Regions from separate parts of the Homo sapiens genome. Here region 1 is linked to region 2. The links come from fine-mapping of genetic effects on gene expression. Tissue or cell type: pancreatic islets. Region 2 holds a variant in brackets; the other region holds the start of a gene. All regions are shown on one strand. Distances are between the middles of the regions.

Evidence for each region. PIP is the estimated chance that this variant, and not a neighbour inherited with it, causes the effect.
Region 1: it holds the start of LINGO4, and the variant in region 2 is fine-mapped to the expression of LINGO4 in pancreatic islets (PISA, PIP 0.95).

Annotation. Positions count from the first base shown.
Region 1 is chr1:151,803,881-151,806,560 of GRCh38, forward strand. LINGO4 (leucine rich repeat and Ig domain containing 4) reads right to left here and starts at 1,539. Exons shown (of 2, transcript NM_001004432.4): 1 at 1,350-1,539. It overlaps RORC (RAR related orphan receptor C), which reads right to left. Exons shown (of 11, transcript NM_005060.4): 11 at 2,191-2,680.
Region 2 is chr1:151,456,828-151,459,507 of GRCh38, forward strand. POGZ (pogo transposable element derived with ZNF domain) reads right to left here and starts at 2,667. Exons shown (of 19, transcript NM_015100.4): 1 at 2,325-2,667. RefSeq lists silencers at 1,768-1,817, 2,008-2,057. The variant CAAAA/C (reference allele first, on the strand shown) is at 1,100.

The DNA of each region.
Region 1 (2,680 bases), 350 kb after region 2:
GAGGAGAAGGGGCCCTCTAGGTGATGAGGGCCCCTGACTCATCCTGTTAGATGTCAACAGGGACCCCAAGGCAGAGGAAGTACTGGAATTGGCAAGGGATGGCTACAGAGATAGGAGCAAAAGCCCATGGATGCTCTCTGGGATACAGCGCGTCTGAGTCTCTGCTGAGCGGCAATCCTGATCACCTTTGGGCTTGTGGGCTTCAGGCTCTCTGGGCTCTACAGGGTCAGCTTTCTACTACATGCCCTGTTTTTTCTCATGTGGAACTTAGGAGAGGCAGTTTAAGAGATGGTCATTTCTTCCCCTTTCCTTCCCACTCTCCACCTCCTAGAAGGATCATTCTAGTGGCTATCCTACAGCCACTTGAGAGGATTGTCCTAGTTGGGAAACTAAAGAAAGAGGCCAAAAGAGCAGAGGGATGCAGAAAACTGGTGTGAGGCTTGGGGATGAAAAAGAATAACGTGGGGCAAAGACTGCAGAGCAGACTCTTCTCGCCCCAAACTGACCTAACAGGTCTCTGTGGCATGCCCAGAGCTCTCCCGGGAAAGATGGCCCAGCCTCCCTTGTTCTCCCTAGGCTTGTTCTGGGAAGTCCACCTGACAGCTAGCTCTTCATCACTACTGCTGCAGTTCCTGCCCATCCTCGCTCTGCATTCAGCAAAAGTGCAGTGAAGCATGTAACCCAGCTTTCTTCCTTCCTGCTCCTGTGAGTTTCCCCTGAGTCCGCTGGGCCAGGGGCTGAGGGAGCTGGAGCAACCTATTTTATTTCTAAGGTGGCTAATTTAATCACAAATTTCCCTTGCCAACCTCCATGGCTGCAGGACCGGCTTCCGGCCACTTTGCAGGAAGCGAGATGTCAGAACCACTTTTTTGTCCCTTCAGTGGGGTGGGGACATCACCAAGACATGACCCTTGAAGGCATCACCCCTCAAGGGTAGGGAGCCTTTTTCTTGTCTTTATGTGGCAGTCCAGAGACACTTTTGAACCTGGGTATCCTGTATCCTCTTTAAAGCACACCTGACTGACAAATGGGAACTGTGTGGGGAGAGGGTTCCTGGGGGAAAGATTTCTGGAAGATCCACACCGATTGTGGAGAAAAACCCTTCCAGAGGAAGGGGAAGCACTGGGGAGATGGAAGGGAGGTCTCCTTGGAGCCCTTCCACCCAGGGGTACTTGGGATATTTGAGTTTCCCCCTCAAAGTCCCATGGGGCCAGGATTAATTGTTAGCAGTGTGGGGGCCCAAACCCTCTTGCCTTGAGGGGCCTGTCTGGCCCCTAGTCTGGCCTGTCTCGGAGAATGTTATGGAAAAGGGCGGCTGCATCTTTGGGACAGAGAGTGGGGGCACTTACCGGAGAAGCTGGAAGGTGGCATCAAGTTTGGCACTGCATCTGTCCAGCGCTGGGGGCCCTGTCCCATTCGAGCTGCACCTCAGGCCCCTGCACCTTCCCTGTGTGCCTCAACCCCCGCTGCCTGGCTGCCCGGCTGCTGCCTGCCGCTGCTGCTGCTGCTGTTGCTGCTGCGGCCGCTGCTGCCAAGACTGAGGTGGAGAAAAGAGCCAGAAAGCATTTCTCCTTTTTTTTTTTCCTCTCTCTCTCTCTCTCTTTTTAAACCAGGCAAGAATGAGTCTGCAGCAACCCTGTTGGTGCAAAATAAATAAATAAAGCAACCAGGGAGGGCTGCAGCAAGCACCACTACAGGCTGGCAAGTGACAGGGGAGGGAGCCAGGAGGGAGGCTCTGGTGCCAGGGAGGGGTCATGCAATAGCAAGAACAGCAGGTTCTAGAGGATCTCTCTGACATCCTGATTCCCCCACTGGGGAGCTTGGGCCAGCCACCTTCCAGAGGACTGTCTTTTGGTCTCCCAGATGTGGAGCAATTCTGTGCAACCTCTAAATCTAAACGTTCCCCGTGGGTATCATTTATGGGAAGTTCTCAGTCTAGAGCATCTCCCGTGGGGCTCAGTTTGAGGCTCCTACAGTGGGGGTTCCTGAAGATTCGTTCACAGTCCTCACTGAGGGACTGCTCCACCTGGGGAGAAACTGCAGGGGTCGGGTGAGGGTGGGTTGGATCTGTATAATGCTGATGGATTGCTGAGCTGGAAACCTGAGTCTTGACCCAGGAATGAGACTGGAGAGCAGGCATGCAGGTAATCTAATTTAAGAATCTCCCCCACCCTCTGACACACACACTTCTTGCCTTTAAAATCATTTTATAAAGAATGGCACAAGTTGGGGTTTATGTTTACTCAGATGAACCCGTCCCCTTAGAGGACACAATCCCACCCCCAACCCCCCCAACTCCACGACTGCCCATCATTGCTGTTAATCCCTCAGGGGAGGGTTCACAGCTGTTTATGAAGCCAAGAGAGGTTCTGGGCAAGATCACAGCTGGGGAAACAGGCCCAGGCCCTGCTCCCTGGTGTCCTCCATGCTGGAGTCAGCGGTGCCCAATGACGGGGTGATGTGATCACATCTGCTTCCTTCTCCACAACAAGAGCAGGGCTGGCGGGCAGGCCAGGAAAGTCCTCCAGGATCTGATCTTGCCTTCCGACTGACCAGTGCGAGCGACTTCTGCTTCTCTTGGGTCTTCTAGTGGTAGAAGACAGCTGGAGCTGGGGTGGTATTTGGATCACCCCAGACCCAAGATCAGTGGACTGGAGCACCATGGAAATGTTTGGGAGGG
Region 2 (2,680 bases):
GAGATAGTGCCACTGCACTCCACCCTGGGCGACAGAGCAAAACTCCGCCTCAAAAAAATAAAAATAGAATAATAAATTTTACTGCTTCAAGGGCATTCTCAAGTAGTTTGGTGCCCCTGACTTGCTTTGTGCTAAGGTACCGCCAGTAGTTTTACCCAGCCTTGCTTTTGAACCATCAGTGTATCAGTGAAAACAATAAATAGCATCTTACTATTATTTTGAAAATAGTTATGACCTTGAGGCTACCCTGAAAGGGTAAGAGGAGATCCCCATGGGTCATCTGTCCACACTTTGAGAACTGCTTTCCTACATTATACCACTAGTTCAAGATGGGAGTGGAAACTCTAACTAAATCAGGTTCGTCCCAAGAGTCCATTCTGTTACCTCCTTTAGTTTGAGATACACCACCAACACAGCTCTGGAAAAGGGAAGGAAATCAACGGCACAAGGTGTCACTTGTTTCAACATCTTGAACACTTTTATGTTAGACCAGTAATTCTCAATGTAGTGGTTACATTAATCAGTCTCAGCCCCAGGACTGCTCATTTGAAAATGTAAAGATGACAACCCCCCTCTGCTCCATTCAAATAAATTTGGGGGATGAGGCCCCCCAAATTGTACGTTTAACCACCTTCAAGTTACTTTTTATGCACCCCGAAGTTGAGAACGATTGTGCTAACAGTTCGAATTCAGAGTTCAAGCTCTCAGACCCTGAGCAATAGTGTCTCAAAATTAATCGTTTGCCAACGAGCAGCCCTCCCTGCCCCCTCCGTTTCCCTTTCCTCTAGTTGGGTAAATGCCTACAGAAGTAAAACCCGGCCGGGCGCGGTGGCTGACGCCTGTAATCCCAGCACTTTGGGAGGCCAAGGCGGGCGGATCACCTGAGGTCAGGCGTTCAAGACCAGCCTGGCCAACATGGTGAAACCTCGTCCCTACTAAAAATACAAAAATTAGCCGGGCGTGGTAGCACATGCCTGTAATCCCAGCTACTAGGAAGGCTGAGGCAGGAGAATCACTGGAACCCGGCAGGCGGAGGTTGCAGTGAGCAGAGATCGTGCCACTGCACACCAGCCTGGGCGACAAGAGTGAAACTTCGTCT[CAAAA/C]AAAAAAAAAAAAGTAAAACCCCATTTCTGTGGAGTTTTGAGCGGCGGTAAGAGGTGTCTACGGGCTTGGAAGGACGGGCTACACCGCTTGCATCAAGACGGCGGCTGCTGTGAGATAGTCCAACTGCATCTTAGTTTCCATTTCGAAAATGAGACTGGCCACTAAATGACTCTAAGGACTCATCAGCACTACCTTTTTCTGAACTAAGAATGTCTAAGACAAGTGCTACTAGCAGTTTGAGAGAATCCCACATCTGGAGAGGAAGGAAATAAGAACAACACGCAGAAAGACGGAAAACAAATAGATCAATGACAGTACTCCTTTGCAAAAGGTGCCAAGAATCTAAATAAAATAGTCCCCGGGATAAACATGGCGCCCACCGCGGCAGGACATAATCACCAGAAAATAAAGATTCCCCGCCTCATTCCATTTTATAAATCACGGCGCCATCCCAAAAGAAATTTGGGGACCGAGGGAGGAGACTTCGTAAACTAGCTGCAGTGCACTAAGGCTTAGGATGTACTATTAGACCAAGCAGAGATTACATAACACAAGGGATCGGCTCAGCAATCACTCATTTTCCTCCTCCCGCTCAAAACGAGCGCCCCACTCCTTCTCGGAGCGGGAATGGGGCGGGGAGGGCCGCGCACCCCCACCCCCAGGGGCCGCTCCGCCGCCGCCCGCCCCTCCGCCGCACGGCCTCGCCCCCTCGCCGGCCCCTCCCGCCGCGCCCCGCCGTCTCGCCACCGCCCGCGCCCCCGCCCCCGCCCCTTCCCCAGCGGGCCACCGCCCGCGCCCGCGCCGCCCACTCCTCCGAGACGCCTCGCGCCGAGCGTGCGTGTGGACGTCGGGCTGTGTGCGGGGCCGTGGGGCGCGAGTGCGCGCGCGCGCGCCGCGGCGGGCGCCGGGGGGCGGGGGCGGCCGGCCAGCCGGCAGGCAGGGACCTCCGCCGCCGGCCCTTCGCGCGGCTCCCGCGGCCCGGGGCGCACGCACACACACTCGCGCTCGCGCGCCGCACCCCGCGGCCGCCCCTGCCGCGGGCCGCGCCGCCACTCGCGGTGGGCGGGGGCGCGCACCGCCGGCCCCCCGCCCCCACCCCCGCGCGTACCGGCCCCATCCCCCTCTCATTGTCTCGCCTCTGAACGCCTCGCCGAGCGAAAAGATAACGGAACCCCCGGGAGCAGGGGGTGGGGAGAGAGAAGGCTCGCTCGCTCACTCACCTCCTGTGGTCGTCGCCGCCGGTAGTCTGACCCGAGGAAGGCGCCGTCGCCTTAAAGGGACCTTACACCCGGCGCCAGAAGGGGGTGGGAGCAGGGGGAGGGGACGGGGGCTTGGGGGGAGACGAAGAAGAGGTAACCGTTGAAAGCTCGTCTCCCCAAGGGTGAAAGGAAGCCTCCCTCGGGTTCGAGTGATTCGGGGTGGATTTTTTTCCCGAGGGGGGCGGGGGGGCCCCGAGGGAGGGGGGTGGGGGGGCCAAGGAATGCGGCTCCGTGTACGGGAGCTGGCGCGGGGGAGAGAGACGCCGACTCCCCCCACCGACCCTCTCGCCCCGCGGAGGGATACGGCTCGTCACTTC